2 linked regions of the Homo sapiens genome follow. The protein of the gene in region 1 purifies or fractionates together with the protein of each later gene. This does not show direct contact. Each region holds a gene or a part of one and is shown in the gene's direction. Other genes may lie near its edges. The genes, in order: SLC2A2 and TRUB1.

Region 1 (12,036 bases):
AGTTCTCATCTGGTGCAACTTACTCTGCTGAACATTCCTTCATGTCATTAGATGGCATGGTTAGCTGCACTGGCTTTGGAGTCAGCCAGACTTGGATCTGGGTTCTAGCAATGCCACTAAACTGCTGTGAGGCCTGGGTTAAGTTATTTAACTGAGCTTTGGGTTTTCTCTATTGTGAGAAAACAAAAACATATTAGGATACAATATACCCTTTATAGGCAAAGAAACTTGGGCTCAGTGATATAATATGGGATATTCAGGGATTATACTAGTACTTTAGAGTTAGGGAGTAATTAAATGAGATTATATTAGAGAGGCTTAGACAACAATTTTAATGTTAATAGTTATATAATTATTAATAGTGTTAAATACATATTTAAATAGTATTTATAAATTATAAAAGATAAATTATATTATAATGTATAAACACTTTAAATACATATTATATAAGCACCATTTATATGTTTGATATTTAAAGTTAAATATAAAATGCTATTTATATAGCATTTATATAGTATGTATTTAAAGAATAATTAGCACATCATGATTTCATGAGTATTATAGCCCAGGATAAAGCTAAAGTAGTTAGAACTTTAAGGTCAATATAAAGACAAACATTAAGTTAACAACTACATAGATGGTATGTAGATTTGGCAAAATTCATGAAGGTAGTAATCAAATAACTAAAGTTTGAAAGCTACTGCAAAAAGGAAGGTAATGTGCTTAACATAGTGTCTGGCACATCGCAGATGTTCAAGATTCATTCAAAACTATCATTAATTTTCTTAGGGGCTTTTGAAATTACGTTGTAGATCTTTTCTTGATAACCAAGGAACTGCCTAACAATGGAACCCAGAAAGAATGAGAACTGAGGTAGTGCAATGTTTTTCAGCTTTGTGAATCTATCCAGACTTTGAAAGAAGTAGGATAAGCAAGGAACTGGGGTCAAGAGACCTGAGTTGTCACACTGAATATGCCCAAAATGCTCACAGAAATCAGACAAATGACATAAACAACTTGGCCTGTGAGACCTCAGTTTCTACAACTGAAGAATGGAGGAATTAGACAAGAATCCATTGTTCTCTAAGGTCTCTTTCAACTTAAAAATTCTGTGACTTGATAAGCCCCTGGCTTTTTCCAAAGTTGCATGCAAGATCACCTTTGGTTTAGGTTTTGGAGACATGTAGTTTAAAGAAAAGGGTATAAGCTTCTCCTCCCTACCTAGTCAATCAGTAATTGCTGGAAAAATCTGCTCTTCAGGTTAGCAGTGGCGTTTAAGACCATCAGCTCTCGGTTCCCACACTAGAGTATCTGTCACCAGCTGTGTAGTGTTAGGTATGCTCCTTAATCCTCTCTGATCCCTGGCTTCCTCACCTCTAAAATAGGAATAATTTCATGTACTTTGTGGTATTGCAAAGAGTATCGGTAAAGTATGAAAAGTTGACACATGGCTGTTTGACAAAAGAAATGAATGAGATGATAAAGACATGATTAAAGATGCATTTGTTCTGTAGCCCTTTTACTGTTTATAGGAAGACCACATTATTTATCTTAGTTTTTACAGTAATCCTATGCATTAACTAGTTTTATACCCATTTTATAGGCAAAGAAACTTAGGCTCAGTGACGTTAGGAGCCTAGCTGGGACTCTTTTGGAGCTTTTCTGACTCCCACATCTATTTGTTTTTTTCTAATAGACCCTATATGACTTATGAGCCACAATATAAACACTACATTGTTTTATGTTGAAGTTCAGCCATTTGCTTATTCTACCCTTCCACATTTATCCAGCAGCATATTTTAAATTGGATATGAAATCTAGTTTCTCTAACTTAAAGTTATTAAGCTCCTAATGAAGGTAGCATTTTTTAAAGTGCAAGCTGAACACCTTATAGCCTATGAGGAAGTTAGGAGAAAAGGCTTGAAGATCTTCTGCACTTACTAGGTTATGTGGACTTTGGACAAGCTGTTTACTCTTTCCATGTGAGCTCCCCCATATGTGAAATGATAATAATAATTCCTACCTACTGGGTTGTTGAGAAAACAGGCAAACCATCTAGAACCTCAGAACTTGGACAGGTTAAGATCCTCTCTAATTTCTTGCTATTTTCAGTAGCACTTATGTACTTCTTCTTGTGTCAACTTCTTGGACATTAGAGTGGATGAATGAAGGTTGACGGGGCTTATTAAGACTTGGTCGTGTTCAGAAATTTCCCCTTAGAAACAAAACCTCCTTTGACCAAGTCTAGAGCCAAGCCACATACAAGGCTGACTATAAACATTACTTCTTTTCATTTCACAACATTGGAGAAAGAAAAGATGAAGGAGTGGGAGCCATTTTAACATGGAGTTCAGAGAGGGCAATTAAACCTGAAAATAAAAGATAAAGAAAAAGAAAGCAAAAGGAAATGCCATTAAACAGTTTCAGAGATTTTGATATTTGGGATAATCACTTTTGTTGGAAATTCTCAGAAATTCAAATGACCTGCTTAAAATGGATGAGATTGCTCCTTATCTGACCAACCTGGTAAAATTCTATCTTGAGGAGTTAAAATAAGGAACTGCAGGCCCTGGGGTGGCAGGACCACAGTCAACCCTCAAAAAGAAACCAGGAAGGCCAGAGGATAAGGACTTTAATAACACGCTAAGATTTCTAAATGTTTAAAAACTCTCCTATCTCCTTCATAGTTGCTATTTTTGTTATTCTAATAAAATGAGAAACTGATCTTAGAGGCAGCTCCAGAATTTCTATACTATAGAACAATTTGATTGGAAAGAAATAGGATGGGAGATCCAGCATCTTTAAAAATTAGCTTTCATTTTTGTCAAAGTAATGTGGGACTTTGTGACTTAGGCTGTGTATGTAAAGTGACAGGGGTGAACTAATGGAGACGACAGGGGAGTACATGTGCTGCAGCTATCGCTATCACCCCAACTTCAATTTCTGTGTCGCCCCTGCTCACCATTAGCATGGCTACTGATTGGACTCTTAAAATAAGGAGAAATAAATTATATGTTTGTATGGTAGAGGGACAGGGAGAGAACCCCCAGAGAACAGAAATCCAGGGATGAAGCAGGAGGTGACAGTCACTAATAAACCAAGTGCCACAGAAGAAAAGAAAATGCAGGGATGAGACTGGGAAAGTATATTGTGGTCTTGGGCTTGGTGGTGGGAAGACCCTGAGGTTCCTCTTCAGCTCAGCTACCGATGAGCAATTGAGTAGGCTTTGCCTTTTTGGACTTTTGTCCAGAGACCTCACCAAAAGTTTCTACTGGTAAGTGGGGGAAAAGGGATTTGTGTGGTAGGTGGTGGGAAAATGTGGTTGAGATTTCTGTGTGTTTGAAGCCAAACAGCTAAACACCCACAAGTGGTAAATTCTGTGGATATGTATGCTCTTAGCTTTTTTAATTTATAAAGATTATGGTCCTAGATTTTTCAGATGTGCTTCGCTTTTGAATGTCTGTATCTGACTAATGAGGGATGCAAAATAACCAAGAAGTTAAAAGCGTAAGATCTGGAACCAAGTCATTGTTCTTTAATTTACTAACTGTGAGATGTTAAACTAATCTAGTTATCTATAAAATGGGGACATTAATGGTGCTGCCATGAAGAATGTGGTAGACAGAATAATCGTCCTCCAAAGAAGTCCACAGCTGCATTGCCAGAACCTGGGAATATCTTGCCTTATGTGGCAAAAGACTTTACAGATGAGATTAAGGTAATAGACCTAGAGATGAGATTTTCCTGGATTACCCTGATGGGTCAAATCTAATCCTATGAATTCTCAAAAGGGAAGAACTTTCCCAGCTACTTGTCAGTGCCAGAGAGATGTAACATGAGAAGGACCTGACCTGCCCATTACTGGCTATAAAGAGGAAAGAAAGATACCAGTAGCCAAGGAAATTTGGTGGCATCTAGAGCTGGGAATGGCCCTTAATTTATAACCAGGGCAAAACGACAGACTTTAGACCTATAACCAAGAGGAACTGAATTCCATCATCAACCCAAATTTTCTCCAACAGCCTCCAGAAAGGAACACAGCCTACCAACAACCTGATTTTAGTCCAGTGATACTTATACCAGACTTCCCATCTATAGATGTTGTTGTAGAGATGGGGATCTCGCTATGCTGCCCAGGCTGGTCATGAACTCTTGGCCTCAATTAATCCTCCAGCCTCAGCCTCCCAAACGCTGGGACTATAGGCATGAGCTGCCATGCTTGGCTATACTTTAAGATAAATAAATTTGTGTTGTTTAAGCTGCTGCACTGGTGGTAATTTGTTACGGCAGCAATAGAAAACTAATTTAAGAAGTAAATGAGATAATCCACATAGTGAACAGGCATGCAGTAAGCATAAGTAGTATTAGGCTTTGAATCTGTTTGTGTTGCATCTCACATGAGATTGTCCTGGTTTCAGTGATGGAGAGTATGAGGGAAGTGGGTTAAAGCCCTCCCAGGGTACTCCTTATCCCATCACTTCTGACAATGGCTACCACCTGTAAAAAGGATGAAAATCCCTATCCTTGGAAATAGCTTGAGGGGAAAAAGGATTTGAGGAGAAACCACCAACTAAGTAAATAAAATTCCATCTTAGATTTGGCTATCTAAGCCACTGAGTTTTAGATGTCGAGTTACATTTTAGATTTTAAATTCAAAATCTTTCATACTCACATAGACCATATATCATATAGTGTGTGTATGCATTTTATGTATAATATATATAATTCACGTGTAATAAACATAAAATGTTAATATATCTTATATGTAAGATATAAATGATATATATAAGTGATAAATATCAGATGTAAATGATATATAAATATATAAAATAAATATATATATTTTGAGACAGGGTCTTGCTTTGTCACCCAGGCTGGAGTATGGTGGTGCAATCATAGCTCACTGCAGCAGCAACCTCCTGGGCTCAAGCAATCCTCCCACCTCAGCCTCCTGAGTAGCTGGGACTACAGGCATACACCACCATGCCCTGCTAATCTTTGTATTTTTTTGTAGAGACAAGGTCTTGCTATGCTACCCAGGCTGGTCTCGAACTCTTAGGCTCAAGCCATCTGCCCACCTCAGTCCCTCAAAGTGGTGGGATTACAGGTGTGAGCCACTATGCCTGGCCAATTTATATCTAATAAACATATTATGCAATATTATATATCACATATATATTATTCTTTTGGGCAATATATATGTATCATATAACCATGTCTTTTGGGTCAACTTTGAAGTCCTTTCTTTCAGAGAAAGAAGTGTTAGGAGGGAAAGTCTGACAGATACCCCCTATATTAGTGAAAGGGGTGGAAGCTTTGTAAACCTACAGATTCCCTATCCCCACCCCAGAGATTCTAATCCAGTAGAAGATCTGGGGCTGTCTCCAAGAAGCTACATGTGTAACAGGCTCTCCAAGTAGGGTCTGGTTTTAGAACCACTGGACTAAATAATTTCAAGGGCTCCCAGGATGGTTCTGTGACAATACTTTGTGAAATTTCTGATCTCTAGCTTTTCAGGGTAATGAAGGGTTCTGGCTAATTTGCTATTCTTTATACTGGGGCTTTACACCAGGGTAGGGAGATTTACTATCACCCCACAATTTAGAGAAAAACTGCTCCTATAAGGGAAGTGGCTTGGGTCACATACCTACTAAGAGAGTGAGAACTGGAATCCATGTTGATGTGACTCATTCATTTACACAACAAAGTTCCTACTATATCCCAAGCTTTTTAAAAATTTATGTAAATGTACATGAAATATCTTCCTTATGAAATGTCTAATCATATGAATACAAGAAAAAATTTCCTTCACTCTCCTTCTCCAACCTCACATTCCTCCTCAAGGACCATCAACTCATTTGTTCTTCAAGAAAACATTCTATAAATTATATACGTCATGCACAAATCAAATAACTGTTTGATTTTTTAAATCAAACAAACTCATGTTTAAGCCTTTAAAAACATTAGATTACATAACTTCCTTCGCCACTTAAAAATAAGTCAGTACACATGATCATATTATTCCTTTTAACTGCTGCATAGCATATTACATGTATCTGATGTATGTATTATGATGTATCTGAATCTATTTGACTATTTCCCATTGAACGATATTTGGGTTCTTTCTACAATTTTGCTATCACATGCACAAAAAAATGCTAAACTAAGTATCCGTATGCATGATGTGATTTCTCTAAGATAGTTAGACATGTAAATATGAGTTCAAGGGGATGAATGTTCTGCCCCTTTTCTACACAGTTTCATTGTAACTACATGGAGTTGGGGAGTTGGGGAGAAAATAATGGCCCTTATCCTACAACTCTAGGCTGAACTAGATGCAAATCCTGAAAAGTACCCTTCCCTGGATGTTGATGCGGAACATGATAAAGGCTAGCTAATGCCTCTTATATGAGTATTTTTGTCACCATGGCAACATCCAACAGAGCTCCCCATCTCTTTATTACTGGTATCTTATTTTACCGCTCCCAATGATATAATGGCTCTATCTTGGCGGCTCCCTTCCGTCAGCAGCTATTCTAGTTCTCAGTCCTGATTCTGAATATATATACATACGTATATATATATATATATATATATATACATACGTATATATATATATATATATATATATACACACACACACATATATATATACACACACACACACACACATATCAACAAATATATATATATAAAACAAAGTTTGGATTTTCTGCATGAGGACTATTTGGGTGGATTTTTTTAATCAAGTAATTTCAATCATTTTTCTCATATATTTTATGCATCCCTATTCTGGTATCCGGTGAATAGTCAGGAGAGGTATGCTATTCTCATACACATATATGGAAAAGAATGTTTGTTTCCTCCCCTGGAAGAAGCTGTCCCAAACTTCTTTGAGTTTTAGCAGCATAGGGGAAATGATGAATGGCTCACATTCTTGTATGAACAACACCTGCCAGCCTGGAGCACAGGGCATACTGCAAATCGATATTGAGGGGAAAGAACCAGCCTGTGGAGCCTGTAAGAAGTTTAAGCTGCAGCCTGACAGAAAGATGGGAAACTAAAATTGCCTGGTGTTTCCCTGCCCTGTGTCTCGCCCCCTGCAGGTCACTGGGACCCTGGTTTTCACTGTCATCACTGCTGTGCTGGGTTCCTTCCAGTTTGGATATGACATTGGTGTGATCAATGCACCTCAACAGGCAAGTGAAATATGTAGAAGTTCTCTTTTTGGCAAGTTCTGTCAGTGATAGATATCATATGTTCCTCATACACAGAGATAAAGGGTGTCCACGTGGGAGACACAAGGCCATCCTGGCCTGTCAGGTACGATGTGCACTGTTCCAAAGCTGATAACTTGGCCTTGACTCCCTAATTAACAATCACGGGGGAAAAAAAAGGAGGCAATAAATAATTCTTAATCTCTGACTCTGCTGTTTGCTGAGCTCACAGAAAACTCCAGGCAGAATATCATGTGCTGAAGGATACTTTAGAAAAAAAAAAGAAAAAAAGAGCTTATTGCAACATTCATTCAGAGATCTCAGCCATACATGAATGAAAAGTGCCAGGGAATAAGGATATGTTTCACTCAGGGGACATTTTTTGAGCACCTGCTTATTTGCATCAGGTACTTTAACATATGATCTCCCCAGCTGGATCCTCTCAACAACCTTATTATGCCCATTTCCAGTCTACATTAAAACCTTAAGAAGCCCTAAACTAAAAGAGATTATGGTCCTTCCCCCTCCATTCCTGTCTCCCATAGGTGACCCAAAGTAAAATAATGTAAAACTTTAGAATAATATTCAAGAAGCTCAACAAAGTTTGGATTTTCTCCACGATGACTCCTTGGGTGAATTTTTAATCAAGTTATTTCAACCATTTTTCTCATATATTTCGTGCATCCCTATTCTGGTATTCAGTGAATACATGGGAGAGGTATGTTATTCTCAGCTCCCACAGCCCATAAGTCGGGGAACCAGGACTTCATTCCCCTCTGCTCTAACTCAGACTGTGAGGTCATTGAGGGCAAGACTGATGAATTGTTCCTCTTCCTATCACTGGTGCCAAGCACAGTAGTTGGCATAAAGAAGGTACTCAATAAAGAGGGGTGAATTAATGAAAGACAGAGAAGAGGAACCTGGGGAAGAGGTGGCATAAAGTGAAGGTACAAACATTTTTTCGGTGCCTTCTGTAAGTCCATTATATTTCCTCTGCTTCTTTTAGAACATTGAGCCCCAAGGAAAATGAAAGATACTGCAGGGTGTGGATATGTGAAATATGCGCTGACCATAATCCATCACCTGAAAAGGGCTGCTTCCTGCTGAAAGACGTGCTCCGATTAGGTGCTACAATCATCAGGAGTGTGGCAGGCTGAGAGATCCAGGGCATAGTGCTGGGGGTCAAGAGACAAGGGTCATATCTTTTTTGTGTGGGTGATGACAACACATGCCAATTTAGCAGGTTTCCTGGAATTTAACATCATTTAACAATTTAACATTCAACATCACCATGACTTGATTAATAGAGCCCCTTCTCTTTTTGTGGAAGACCTTATCACATCATTAATTGAACCATCCCTGGCCGGGCGCAGTGGCTCACTCCTGTAATCCCAGCACTTTGGGAGGCTGAGGTTGGCGGATCACCTGAGGTCGGGAGTTCGAGACCAGCCTGACCAACATGGAGAAACCCTGTCTCTACTAAAAATACAAAATTAGCTGGGCGTGGTGGCACATGCCTGTAATCCCAGCTACTCGGGAGGCTGAGTCAAGAGAATCACTTGAACCCGGGAGGCAGAGGTTGCGATGAGCTGCAATCGCACATTGCACTTCAGCCTGGGCAACAAGAGCAAAACTCCATCTCAAAAAAAAAAAAAAAAAAGAAAAAATTAAACCATCCCCTCCAGTCTTAGACGGAAGCTTAGGCTAAGGTTTCACCTCCTTCAATCCAAGTCCCAGAGCCAGAGCTGAAAACAGCGATCCCCATACTGGCGTCCAGGTTAGTGCTCTCTCTCTATATAGGCCCTTCCTTTTGTATTTAAAGAGCTGCTGAAACACCATTACATAAGAATGATTTTTTAAGCCTTTTTTTAATCAGCTGAATGACATTTGGGATTATTTGGAAGGATTTTAAAATCACACTTTCATATGGTTATGAAAATTACACATGCCTACTGAAGACAGTATTAGAAAAAAAAATACCCATAATTATTTGCTGAGAACATTTTGGATATTTCCTTCAGCTTTTTTTTCTATGCATATTATTCATATAAGGCAGCCTTCTAGTGAGGCAAATGTTTTTGTTTTAGTTTTTTGAGACAAAGTCTCACTCTGTCATCCAGGCTGGAGATTTTCACTTCAACCTCTGCCTCCTGAGTTCAAGCAATTCTCTTGCCTCAGCCTCCCAAGTAGCTGAGATTACAGGCTCCAGCCACAATGCCTGGCTAATTTATTGTATCTTTAGTAGAGACAGGGTTTTGCCACGTTGGCCAGGCTGGTCTTGAACTCCTGACCTCAAGTGATCTGCCCACCTTGGCCTCCCAAAGTGCTAGATTACAGGCATGAGCTACGGCACCCAGTCTGAGACAAATGTCTTGATCAGACTTCTTTTATAAGAGGATGCTCAATTCTTCCCCTCCCTCAGCTGGCATTACCAAACAGGCCTTTGCCCATAACTAGTAACCCAGAGCAGCTGCATTCCAGGTCCTTTTCAGAGAGTACCCTCCCAGCTCACTGATGCTAAATAGTGACCAAATCATCATTGAGAGGAATGACATGGGAGGAAGATGGCCTCGTCTTCCTCCCATGTCCTATAATTCATCTGAATTATATGAAGCATATTACAAAATATGGCTCCATGAAATTTAGTTTCCAATGTTGTCCATTCTGTTACACAGTTAACTCTATGAGGACCCACAGGAGAAACTTCCTTTGGGTCTCAATACCTTCTCAAGGGCCACTAACTTATTGTTATCTTAGGAATTCATCAATAATATACCCGGTTGTTTTCCTCTCTGCCCTGGTGGCTAGGAAGTTTACTGGTAAATCTATAGCTCACTTCCAACAAAGATACACCATCTAGTGTTTGAATTCTGTATGCTAACTTGATTTTTGACCCTCATCTTAACTTTCCCAGTCTTTTTTCTTATATCCACTTTTATGATTCTGTTAAAATATGTATAAGTCAATTTAAATCCTGCTGTGCAGAAGTAACACTAGCATGAAAATGTATCTTTTTAGCCTGCAGAATATATATATTTTTTGAGACAAGGTCTTACTTTCTCACCCAGGCTGGAGTGCAGTGGCTCCATCTTGACTCACTGCAGCCTCAACCTCGCAGGCTCAAGCAATCCTCCCGCTTCAGCCCCCTCCAAGTAGCTGGGACTACAGGCATGTGCCACCATGCCTGGGTAATTTTTAGTATTCTTCGTAGAGACAGGGTTTCACCATGTTGCCCAGCCTAGTCTCAAACTCCTGAGCTCAAGCAGTCCGCCCACCTCGGCCTCCCAAAGTGCTGAGATTATAGGTGTGAGCCACCGCGCCTGGCCTAGCCTGCAGAATAGTTTCAATTTCAATAGTTGCCAATATTTAAAACTCGAAAAAATTTACATAAAAACTCAGATTTCTGACTTTCTGTTAAAAAGTTAAAGGTCATCCAACACCAGTTTCACGTTTGCAGCTTCCTCTTGCTCCTCTAGTTCCACAATCCTGACCATTCCCTATTAGTCCCAAATAGTAGAAAATGTATTTTAGTCCCCTAGTCATCAAAGTATTACATGTTCCCTTCATTTATTTGTTCCTGCCTGGTTCTTGTTGGCAATGTAATTTATAACCTTTCTTTTATAGGATATGGCCAACTGTAAACAAATCTATCCATGTTTATATGTATATAAAACACATAATTGAGATGGTACTATTTAAACACGTAACAAACACTTTAAAGACAAAAACAAAAATACATAGAATGTTTGAAATAGTAAAGCTATTTTTCTTTATCTCCTAGGTAATAATATCTCACTATAGACATGTTTTGGGTGTTCCACTGGATGACCGAAAAGCTATCAACAACTATGTTATCAACAGTACAGATGAACTGCCCACAATCTCATACTCAATGAACCCAAAACCAACCCCTTGGGCTGAGGAAGAGACTGTGGCAGCTGCTCAACTAATCACCATGCTCTGGTCCCTGTCTGTATCCAGCTTTGCAGTTGGTGGAATGACTGCATCATTCTTTGGTGGGTGGCTTGGGGACACACTTGGAAGGTAGGCAAATTTCATAAATAAGCATAAACAGAAACTTTCATATTTTCATTTTCCTAACACTTGTTTAGAAAAATATTATCTTTCTTCTTGTGGAATAGCTTTAGAGTTGTTTTTTCAACTCATGACCCTATGAGGCATATCAGTGTTAGATCAAATCAATGAAAAAAGCTGTTGCGACAGTTTGGTTAATTGTTCAGACATTTATACCAAACATGAGTTTTGTGTGTATTTCTAGATAATTGCTTTGATCCTCTAGCTTTGTAAGTTATAAAATATACTAGGAGACCACTACACAAACGGTTAACTCAGGAACTCAGCAGAAGAGACTAATTAGAGTTTTTAACCTGGGAGTCCATTGTTTGCTTCACCAAATCACACTATGTCTCAAACATCCAGTTTTCCCTTTTTAAATTAGAATTTGGCATTCGGATCAGTCAAGTTCAAAGGTTCAGTCAACATCCCCAACTCCCAATTGCCCAATGTATTTGTTATGCGGTTTCTGGCTGCTGGTACTGCTTGCTATCTCAAAGCCCCAACCAGAGATGAAGCAAGAGATACCCCCATTTATCACTTGAGTTTCTGTTAGGTTTTTTGGATTAAAAACATCAGTGGAACTCCTTTACCCTCAAATTTTACTTATTCATGCAATGGACTACAGCTGTTAGGATTTCCCACCCTATATAAAGAGGAGATAAAACCAGAATATCAAATGATTATTTTTTAGATTTTCTCCTATTTGAGCCCACCTTTTGTGCATTACCTTTTTTTCTCATGA
Region 2 (12,036 bases), on another chromosome or scaffold:
GAAGATAACGTCTACCAAAACTAAGTCAAAAGGTTTTCAAAAATATTTTACAAAATACCTATAGTATATAGATATATACTTTATCCTGTGAAGTGCTGTATACAGGTCTTTTTTATTTTTATTTATTTATTTTTTTGAGATGAGTCTTGCTCTTGTTGTCCAGGCTTGAGTGCGGTGGCGTGATCTCAGCTCACTGCAACCTCCACCTCCCAAATTCAACTGATTCTCCTGCTTCAGCCTCCTGACTAGCTGGGATTATAGGCGACTGCCACCATGCCCTGCTAATTTTTGTATTTTTAGTAGAGTCAGGGTTTCATCATGTTGACCAGGGTGGTGTTGGACTCCTGATCTCAAGTGATCTGCCCACCTCTGCCTCCCAAAGTGCTGGGATTACAGGTGTGAGCCACCATGCCCGGCCAAAAGGTCTTTTTTGAAACAAACAAACAAACAAACAAAACTAAAACTGGACCTATGCAAAAAAAATATACTTTTACTTTCAACATTTTTTTTTGCAATATTAATGGTGCAGATTAAGAATTTAGCTGACAATTTAAGATTATAACCTGAAATTCAGGTTTATAATTCTATAGCATAATTGCTAGAGGGTTCACAAGTTTCTCAAAAATACGTGGTAGGCAAAATAATGGCCCTCTAAAGGTGTCTGTGTCCTAATTTCCATAACCTGTGAATATATTAGGTTACATCACAAGGAACATTAGGGTTGTAGATGGAATTGATGTTGCTAATCAGCTGACTTTAAGATAGATTATCCTGGAATTTCCAAGTGGACCCAATGTAATCACAATATTCTTTAAAAGTGGAAGAGGAGGCAGAAGAGAGAGTCAGAGGAGATGTGGCAGTGGAAGCAGAGGTTGGAGTAATGTGGTTGCTGGCTTTGAAGAGTGAAGGGGATCACAAGCCAAAGAATGGGGGCAGCCTCTAAAAGCTGGAGGAGGCAAAAAAAAAAAGGTCCTCTACGGAGGCTCTAGTGAAGGATTCTCCCCTAGCACCTCCAGAGAAGAACACGGTCAAGCCAACCCTTTGATTTTAAGCCTAGTTAAACCTGTTTCAGGCTTCTCACCTCCCCAACTATGTGATAAAAAGTTTGTATTGTTTTAAGACAGATTGGTAATTTGTTAACAGTAGCAATAGGAAAGGAATACACCTATTTATCATAAATCACTTAAAATGTAAATAAAATTTCTATATACCATTTCAAAAAAATTTTTTTAACTTTAGAGGTTATAGAAACAGTGAGAAAATTTAGAAAATACAAGAAAGTTGCAAATAAAAAATTATCCATTTTCCACCTTTCATCAATAGTCAGTTAACATTTTTGCCATATTTCCTTGTAGCTTTTTGTCTATGCAGATTTTTAAAGTTGAGATCTACTTCACTGTGTATACTTATATATCCATTTTTTTAAACTTAACATTGTAACATAAACATTGTTCATGTTGATAAGCTCTTTGTAAACTTTATTTTTAATGGCTATAAAATGTTCCATCATATGGCTAAAATACCATTTATTAACCATTTCCCTATTTGAGGTCACTGAGGTTATCACCAGAGTTTTGTCAGAACTGATTTTGTGAGAGATGTCTTTATAGATAGAACTTTTTGTTTGTTTTGTTTTTAGTTTTTACCCACACATCTGTATCAGCCAGATGTTTCAGATTCTTAAAATAGATTCCTACGATTGGAAAGATACAGGTCTTGTAAGATGATCCTACAGAAAGCTGGAAATACATGTATAGAGTCCATGCCTGTCCTAAAGAGACTCTCATCATAAACAAATTCTATCTTTTTGATTTGAGAATGGGATACTAGGACATTGGATAAGTTTGGAGATAGTTATTTTTGTTTTTGTTTTTTTAACGGAAAAGACATTTGAGTGAGCACAGAACACTTGGGAGATAGAGTAGGAGAGTAGTAATTGTGCAACAGTGCATGGAAAACCCCGTTATTCATCTGCTCTCTAAATTCTCCACACCTTTTCAAATGTGGTGCCTTTGCTCATGTTTTTCTTTTATAAGCTGCTCATCTCTCTCAGCACCTTTGGTTGTAGAAGTCCTACTGACCTTTCCAGGTTCAGCTGAAATGCCATTTCCTACCTTTGAAGCCTGCCTGCTGCTCTTCTATACTGCTAATGTAAAATTTCATTTTGTTCTTTTAGTTTTTGTTAATATCTGTCTCCCTATTATATTGTTAAATCACAGCTGAAGCCAGGTCTTATTTATTTCTGTACCTACACAATAAGTACTGGATACAATTTTGAATGATTGAAGGGAAAAAATGCCGAGTAAAAATTCTGTCCGGGAAACTAACCTGTGAATGAAAAGCTGCTGGTTGGCTAGGTCCCAACTCCAGATAATTTTTCTATATGCCACCACCATATTAGTCTTCCTAAAATTCTGCTTTCACTAATCACCTCACTTCAATGGCATTTGGTTATTCTTAGGTTAAAATGAGAGGATTAAGCTGGGTAACTCTAAGATGGCTTCTTTTAAATTTTATCCTTCTGGGTCACTAAACTAGCTCAGAAACCATCATGAGTTCAGTATTTCAGCCATGTTAAAGTCAAACATGTCAGTCTGCTTCTAAGACACCCTGTGTTCAGTTGATAAACCTACTGTTCTCATCCTTGTATCTGAGAGTTTGTGCAATTATTTTCTTTTTTAGAACATGCTTCTCTTCTCTCTGTTGTGTTCCCTATACATCCTTCAAAGGCCTAATACAAACTCCGAAATGCTTGAATGAAGCATTCTCCGGCCTCTTTAGCCGTTTAGGATGCTCCCACCTTTGCCCTGCTTTGGCAGCGGTTCTCTCTCTGTTCATTTGACACTTAATCATATACTATCATATTGTTATTTAGCATTATTCACTCATTAGGCAACATTTCTTGAGCACTGTGATTTTTCTGTATTTTATTTTCCTGATGAGATTATAAGCTGTTTCAGAGTTAGGAAATGTGTCACAGGTTTCTTTGTTTTTCCATTGGAAGTATTCCTCTTGGGATTATGTGCATAGTAGTTGTTCAAGAAAAATTGATTGGAGATTTATTTGAATGGAATCAAGTCGCATTGAATCTTTCCTGTTTGCCTCATCAGCAGCAGTATCTACAAGTTCTGTCATTTGAAGAGTATTATGCTCTTCAGAGGATTACTGAGGACAGACTGTTTTTGATCTTAGACCTTGAACTATATGACTTAGAAGGACAATACAGATGAGTGTCATAGAGGTTTTGAGGAGGTTGGAATAGACTTTATGAATGAGTTGGGGCTTGAGCTGGGCTTCAAAGGATTGACTTTGAATACTTTAATAAGGAGTTGGTGCTGTAGGCACTGGGACCCTACTAAGGATTGTTTGGGGGGCTTTGTAATGTGAAAAATAGGGTTTCAGAAATGGTTATGAAGTGGTATGAATTGGAAGAGGAAGGGATAGGATGTAGAACCGTCAGGTTTGCAGGGATGTAGGCTGGTTGCAGTGAGGAGAAAGCCTAGGTGAGTTAAGGTGGCAGAGGGAATGGAAAGGAAGGGGGGTCTGTTCTTAGACCATTTGGTTTGAATCTTAACTCTACCAGGTACTGGTTGTGAGATGCTGGACAAAGTTCTTAGTCTCTTATTCCTGTTTCCTCATCTATCAACAGGGGTAATTATACTATCTTTTAAAGTTTTTTTTTTTTTTTTTTTGAGACAGAGTTTTGCTCTTGTCACCCAGGCTGGAGTGCAATGGTGTGATCTTGGCTCACCGCAACCTCTGCCTCTTGGGTTCAAGCGATTCTCCTGCCTTAGCCTCCCAAGTAGCTGGGATTACAGGCATGCGCCACCATACCTGGCTAATTTTGTATTTTTAGTAGAGACGGGGTTTCTCCATGTTGGTCAGGTGGGTCTTGAACTCGTGACCTCAGGTGATCCGCCCGCCTCAACCTCCCAAAATGCTGGGATTACAGGCGTGAGCCAACACACCTGGCCTTTTAAAGTTGTTATAAGGATTAAATGGGATAATGAAAGGAGAGCATTTAGAGTAGAATCTGATACATGGTAAACTCACTGAATGGTATTTGCTGTAAATATTGGAGATATTTTTTCTAGTTTGCCAATCAGTAGTCCTTGTTTACTCTTATAATTCTGAATTGTGGTGATTGTATTGTGTTCTTATGCACAGTTATATCTGTTGATGACAAATATTTCTATACTTACAAAAATGTGGCTTCTTAACAAAAAGAGAAGTGACTAAATCCTCTCACCCTCACCAAGTGAAATGTGTTGACGTATGAATAATGTTTGAAATTTAAGAGAAAGGTAGGCCATTGTTGTACTTTGGGCTCTGTAAATACATTCTTCAGCCTTCATTTTACCTTGTATTCTTTGTGTTAGACTGATTTGTTATGTTTCTCTTTTCTTGATTGTATATACTGCTGGGTGCTAATCATCTTTAAATGGTTCATTAGCTGTGATAATGGCTTTTGCTTTGTTTAATAATGAATTCTGTCAAAAGACTTTATCATACCCACTTGAACATGGTTAATTGTGCCGTGTGTTTTTCACTGGTGCCCATATAAAATTCCAGTGCGTCCTTTGAGATTGTTCTAAGGCTTCATTGTCTAATTGGCTGGGTTAAGGTTTCTACTGAGTTTAATACTTTGAGAATGGGGAGAAAGGTCTTCTCTTGTCCCTTCTTTAGAATTTCTTAGTTGCATGACAAGTTCAACTGTTTGGAGTAATAGGAGCCCTAACATTTTGCTAAATATCTGTTCTTTCCCACTTCACATTACCTAAGCTGGGAAATTATGACCAAAAAATATAGCTATTTTAAAAACCTAGTTTTCAGAACAGAGTGTCATAATATTTCTTTCTTTGATTTGTAGTTGTTGGAATTGGAAGCGGAACAAAAATGTTGACCAGTATGTTGTCAGGGTCCAAGGTAAGAATACTGAAATAGTTCTATTTTTCTTTAATGTTCTTAATGATCTACATGTATTGGGTTTTTATCAAATAAAAAATAAACTGAGTAAACTGCATGAATGGGTATCATTCCTGAGTATTAATTATGTCTATAAACATATCTGAGATTGAAAATATCGAGACTGAAAATTGGAAATTCTTAATTGAAAAACCAATTAGACTTAAAGAAACAATGCTACAGTGCTCATCATTTAACAAAATTATATTTAGACTTTTAAAACATCATATTTCTTAGATGATTGGGACTTAGAGGTCATAAACTCTAGTGACAGACTTTTTTAAACCTTGGAATTTTTATAGAAACAATACCATTTTGTAAACTGTGCCCTTTGAGCAAAAATATGCTTTGTTCAATGGTTATAAATGTTTATTAAAGAAAAGAGTAGGGCCTCTTTAAGATGATAAAGTATGTTCATATATGAGAGTAACCTTGAATAGATCCAAAAGCACTTTTCCAGGCACTTGATAGAAGAGAGAAGGGGTTATTTGGAGGCAGGAGAGGCTGGAAAGCTGTGAACTGCTGGTAGAAGGGGTCTCTTCCATCTCTCAAAGAGAGAGTAATATCTGTATCCTAATGAGTAATTAGGTGCTGGTTATAAGTGCTGGGACTAAGGGTCAATGAAAATGCACGTGGAAGGAAGCTTAGTATGCCAAGAGGTAGCGAAAAATTTCATTATGTTCCTGGAATAAACTTTGTTTTAAAACTCTTGCTCTAAATGTGATATAAATTGTTGATAAAATGATTTTTGTTTCTTTAAAAAAATCTGTTGTCAAAGACCATTTAAAAAACAATTTCCAGTTCATTGCAGACTGATTGATGACTTTTGTAAAATATAATTAAAATACGGCAATGTAAAATTGCTAAATAAGTTTCTACGCAATCTCATTTTCTGAACTTATTATAGATAACTGGCCTGTGGAAAACACTTGACGTAGTAGTGGTTTAAGTATTAAAATAAAAGCCCTGACCGAGCGTGGTGTCTCATGCCTGTAATCCTAATACTTTGGAAGGCCGAGGCGGGCAGATCACTTGAGGTCAGGATTTCGAGACCAGCCTGGCCAACATGGTGAAACCCATCTCTGTTAAAAATACCAAAAAAAGTATCCAGGCGTGGTGCTATACACCTTTAATACCAGCTACTCGGTAGACTGAGGCAGGAGAATCACTTGAACCCAGGAGGCGGAGGTTGCAGTGAGCCAAGATCACGCCATTGCACGCCAGCGTGGGTGACAGAGTGAGATGACTCCATCTCAATAAATAATAAGTAAGGTAGGTAGGTAGGTAGGTAGATAGGTAGATAGGTAGGTAGGTAGGTAGGTAGATAGATACATAGATACATAGATTGATTGATTGATTGATCGATTGATTTTAAAAAGCCTCGGAGAACATATTGCATGTGATGTCTCATTTTGGTTATCAACTGGCATAAAAATCTGTGCCATTCAATTGGAAGGAATCTTAGTGCCTCTGATAAATGAAAAGCTTCAGTGTGGCTTGCTCTGTAATCTTCAAAATATTGGTGTTGAAAAATTACAGAGTATAAAAATTGCATTAGAATGAAGGTGTTTGACAGTTTCTCAGTAAATTTTTATACTGTGCTTACTGACACATAGAGTTTAGAATCTGTTTCTGATACTGGTTTTTGCCAGTTGTTTAATATTTGTTTCTGAACTCCCAAAGATGAACAATGTTTACTTTAATATGGGATTATGGATGATTTTTTTTTCACATTATTTGGTATTTTCTAAAATCTATACAATAAACAAGTCACTTTTATGTTAATAATAAAAAAGATATATTTACGTTAAGGAATTTGTTTGGGTTTTTTTACCAAGATAAAATATGTTGAGTTCATTGAGATATTCGTTGTTCACCCCTCCTCCCCCAAACCACAAACACAGCACACTATATATTACTGAAAGATTTTACTTGTAAATTTCAGGCATATTTTCAGAAATATTATGACTGAAAATGTAAATACATCATTGACTCTGGTATAAATTTTGTAACAGCCAATTTGCTGTTCAGCTACGAAAGCTGAATGTCATACAGTGAAATCACTGATCCTCAAAATGACTGTAACATAAATAGAATACCACAGGCACGTCTTGTTACAGAAACCTAGTTCTTAGGTATTTCAAAAATAGGCATCGTTGTCTTGTTAGCTATTTATATTTCTTATCCTTTTAATTTTATGTACCTGTTAAAAGAACTAAATCATTAAGAGTTTAATGTTGAAGATTATTTTTTAATAAAAAGTAGTTAAAAACTGTTAATAAATATTTTTTCTTTTTTTAAAAGCACTAGAAGGAATCTTAGAGATCATCTTATCTAGTGACTTTCAAAATTTTTTTGACTAAGACCCATAGTAAGAAACATATTTTATGTAATGACCATATAGATACATACATTTATGAAAAGGAAAAATTTTATCAAACAACTTTGTGTTAGTCTGTTTGTGTTGCTGTAAAGGAGTAGTCGAGGCTGGGTAATTTATAAAGAAAAGAGGTTCATTTGGCTCATGGTTCTGAAGTCTGTACAAGAAACAAGGTACTGGTATCTGCTTCTGGTGAGGGCCTCTGGAAGCTTACACTTGTGGCCATGTCGCATGGTGAGAGAGGGAGTGACAGAGAGAGAGGCGGAGGTGCCAGGCTCTTTTAAACAGCCAGATCTCGCGTGAACTCATTGCAGGGAGGGCACCAAGCAATTAATGCAGGATCCGCCCTCATAACCCAGACAATTCCCACCATGCCCCACCTCCAACACTGGGGATTATATTTCAACATGAGATTTGGAGGGGGCAGACATCCAAACTTTATCCAACTCTAACCCTATGTATGATGTATTCTTGATACTTTTCCTTCTATTTCATTAAAAAAAAAAATGTGGCTGCAGCCCCCTAACTTGGCCCAGATCTAATGTCCACTTTTTCTTCACTTCCTATTTTGACAGATGAATTTTTATTTGCATCACAGTGCAACTAGAAAAATTAGACTTCTGGTATGTGTAGGATGGAGTTACGTCAAGAGTAGAAATATTTAGTTCTAGGATGGCAAATATTCAGTGTTCTTGTTACAGCCATATTACAGAACAGCCTTCTCTCCCTAGCCAGTCGTAATTGGAGATATTGCTAATTGAACATGGCCTAACATTTCTTCTTGCTGAATCAAGAAACACCCTTAGAATCTTCTTCAACATGGTGCCACTTCATACAACTACTGTCACTTACTAGATGAAATTCTGGCTTTTAAGTAAAATCTTTAGGCCATCACATTATTTTGCTTCCATCTGTGAAGACTAGACACTAATCAGACCACCCAAATCATTTCTTGCATTTCCTCCCATTCAGATCAGGGTAAAAGTTAAGAAAAGAGCCACTGCTCTGTGTTCCTCATTGTCTTCCTCTCCTGCCTTGGAGTGAGCTTTGTTCTGCCAGTGATCATATTTCTCAAGTCTTTTTTTTTTTCCCTGTGCCTGATCATTTAGGATTATGTGTATAATGTGTGTGAAAAGCATGTGAACTTTTTGTACAGTGCCTTGTGTATGGAAATTGCTCATTAAATACTGTTATTACTATTCCCAAGTATTTTACTTATCCCCAAGTCTCTCTCTTGAGGTCCAGGCCTGTTGGAGCTTTCTAGCCACATGTTCTGTAGACACCTGAAATTAATTTTACTCAGGCAAGTTCTGTTGGAACTCTTGAATACAGTTAATTTCTTTTTTTTTTTTCATGGCTATCTGTGATTGCTGGTGATGTAGGCAAAATATTGCACTCATCAGAAAGAGAAAGCATGCCAGTTCTTTAAGGGAGAGACAGACTTTCCTTGGACATTAAAGCCAGAAAGAAGTTTCTGACAATAAGAGATATTAAATGACAGATAGATGGTGATTTTCAAAAATAGTTTTACAACAGATGTAGAAATGGAGCTACATAAAATACAGTTTAGGTAAAATTCTGAGAGGTTAGGCTGATGTGTTCCTTTGGCCTAAGTTGATCTAAGTATAAAACGTTGCTTACCTAGAGGAGGGCAAATAGCCCCTCTTATATCTTCCCTAAATTACACTTTCTTTGAGCCAGTCATTCAGCAAAAGCTGGATAGCAGATGTCGTACTTTGAAGGAACAGACAGAAGGAACAGAAGAAAACAGATGAGGTTTTGGAGTGCTGTCTTTATTAGTTTTCTATATTGTTGATCAAAGTTGGTTACTTTATAAATGCTTTAGAAACCAGATGGAAAGGTTATGAAAACCTGAATAATCTAACTAGCATGTCCAGATATAAAGGTACCTCCATATCTCTGTGCAGGTAAACCATAGTGGCACCTGCAGGCAAAGCCAGCATCTCCTCAGAAGGCAACTTTGTATCCCCCTCCAGTAGTTAAACAAGTGTCATCATTGGAGTGAATGAAGTTTCCCCTTCTTGGTGTGGTCAAAGGATAGTAACTTTCCCCAAGAACACAGTAACATTTTTAGGTTAACCAGTTATGAGAACTCTAAAGTGTGGCTTGAGTAATGCTCCTATGAAACTTAGCCAACTCTTGAAGATTTCAGCATTTCTAATCAGTTTTCTCCAGAGGCTAGTCCAGTTTGTACCTTTTCTATATACGCTATTAATTTTCATATATTTCATAAATACTGTATTGAAAATTTTAAAGGGCTTATACTTATGAACTATAAAAAAGGACTGTTCCTTCTTAATGAAGACATTCAAAGCCACATGTTTTTGGTTTGATAGGTTTTTTAAAAAGTGTTCTTTCTCATCCTCAGTAATATCCCTATTTTGTTTGTGAAGGTTTAAATCACAAGCTTTCAAAATCACACCTCAGTTGAGATCCAAGGAAATGATTGTGTGTATACTTTCTGTAGTAGAAACATTTTTCTTTCTCCTAAACAGAACAGAAGCTGATTTGCTGCTAGAGATGTCTAGCTAATACCTGCTGTGGGGTTTAGGGAGCTTGACGATGAGTAAAGTAGAGAGTAGAATAATACCAGTGAGAAACTGTGAGTCCCAGAGAGTACACAGGTCAATGGAATGTTCTTCAGGACCTCTCTTTTGTTGCAGTAGAATTACATTGTAATGAATACAGTAGTAGAATTCACGGTTCCCAGGTATACGTCTTGGAGAATTAACAACTCCAAAGCACAGACTCTACGTAGAATTTAAGCCAGTGAAAAGAAATATTTTAGACTCCATAAGATAAAATGTTAGGGTTGAATGTGTGTATCTCCATGTCTTTTTTCTTCTATCCCAATATCTTTTTGGTCGTGAGGCTTTGTTTCAGCTGAAGGCTTAACTGTGTGGGTGAATTTTTCTAAATGGTTTGTGGATAATTGAATAAAATTGAAGGATAATTATAACTAGATGCCAGGACAAGGGAAAGCTAGGAGACAGCTGATTTCAATCATCGGTTCGCAGGGTGTGGTCTAAGGACTCCTGAGACTCTTTCAGGGTGTCTGTTGAAATTGAAACTATTTTCATAGTTTTGCCTTTTTAACTTGCAATCCCACAAATACATGGTAGAGTTTTTCAGAGATTACTAGATGTGCAATGACATCATTGCTCTGATGGCTAATGGAAGTTTTAAACATTTTTCAGCTTTAATTTCTAATACAATAAATCTAGGCAGATATAACATGTTTTTAAAAAATGTGTGCCAGGGTTTCTCAATAAGTTTTAAGTGTGTATAGGAGTTCTGAAAGCAAAATGTTTGAGAACATTTTGATTTGATTTGATTTGAGAATGTTGATTTAGATATTGTCTCCCCTAAAAAGAATCCAGCACGTAGCTACATACAATATAATTGCAGACCCTGGAGTGGGTTGAGACTTAGCAGATGAAATCTAGATATTCAAAACTATGGTGAAATGTGAAGAATTGCACACATAGGCACTTCTCTAGCATGTGTATCATTCTGTCAGCAACTTTTTATTAAGCTGCTACTGTGTTTCTATTTAGGAAAGAACACAATAGATGAGCAATGGGAAACTCTAGCTGAGAGTTCATACTTGCAGAAAGTAAGGATCAATAAAGTATACTTGGAAAACAGTGAATATCTCTGTAGGTCATCATGTGCTAAGATGTGTGATATGTGTGATATGAGAGCTCAGTGAGATAAACCAGACATGTCTGTTGTTGCCATTATATCCAGTCCTCTCTGCAGTAGTTGTGTTTATTGAAGTTTTCCTGTTACACTGTAACCTCTTAGAGGGAGAGCAATCTATCTTATGTATCTGTGTATCCTTCCCTAGCACTTAGGAGAATACTTTGGACATTCATAGTCCTTAAGAAACATGATCGAATTTGTGGATTTGATATATGCCTTCCTTCTTTCTATGTATGGAATTTGTATCGAGCACCTACTCTTAGTCATGCTGTGGAGGTGGGTAAATGGAAGTTGGGATGGATTAAGGGGTGGCTTTGAAAGCTGAATAAGGTTTGATCCTTAGAGAAGAGTGGGAGTTCAAGGCCAGGGAAGTGGCATATGTGCCCCAGGTGCACAAAACACCAAGAGTCCAGAGACTAGAATGGGCATTGCATACTTGGGAAACATGTTAAGGTTCCTAGTTCAAACTCGTTGCAGAGCAGAATACTGCAGATACATTCAAGGCATAGTCTGCAAGATTGCACCATGGTTTTCTTATGCAACTAAACAGACTCTAAAGACAAAAAAATCATAAAGCATTTTGATGCTTTGCTTTCCTTATGGGAGCTGACTGTAACCAGATGAGTCAACTCTAGCCACTGTTAACTGCGAATCATTCTGTATTTTCTTTCTTAGAAAATAAAGATGATGATGGTATTATTATCTGTTATTTACCAGGGCTAGATATTGTTACTCTAAACTCTTTGCTTCTTCTCATGAGGCATTATTGTTTTCCACATTTTAAGATAAGGAAATTAAGCTCCAGCCGGAAAGACTAACTTGGTCTACAAATTGTGGTACAGTCAGAATTCAAATCCAGCCAGTTGACCCTGAGCCTGTGCTGTTACCATTGTTGTACTTCTCTCATACTTCCCCCTGTGGTATGCTTAGTCGAGGTTGATTGTCCCAAAATATAGAAGCAGGAA

What was found.
Region 2: the proteins of SLC2A2 (region 1) and TRUB1 purify together in Homo sapiens (affinity purification with mass spectrometry; 2 studies listed by BioGRID and IntAct, with this or other methods). This does not show direct contact.

What each region holds. Positions count from the first base shown.
Region 1 is NC_000003.12:171,013,694-171,025,729, reverse strand, and holds part of SLC2A2 (solute carrier family 2, facilitated glucose transporter member 2), read left to right. Parts: intron 1-7,106; coding exon 7,107-7,199; intron 7,200-7,274; coding exon of another isoform or gene 7,275-7,323; intron 7,324-10,998; coding exon 10,999-11,261; intron 11,262-12,036.
Region 2 is NC_000010.11:114,946,224-114,958,259, forward strand, and holds part of TRUB1 (pseudouridylate synthase TRUB1), read left to right. Parts: intron 1-4,870; coding exon 4,871-4,926; intron 4,927-12,036. UniProt on the Homo sapiens protein: Pseudouridine synthase that catalyzes pseudouridylation of mRNAs and tRNAs. Mediates pseudouridylation of mRNAs with the consensus sequence 5'-GUUCNANNC-3', harboring a stem-loop structure. Constitutes the major pseudouridine synthase acting on mRNAs.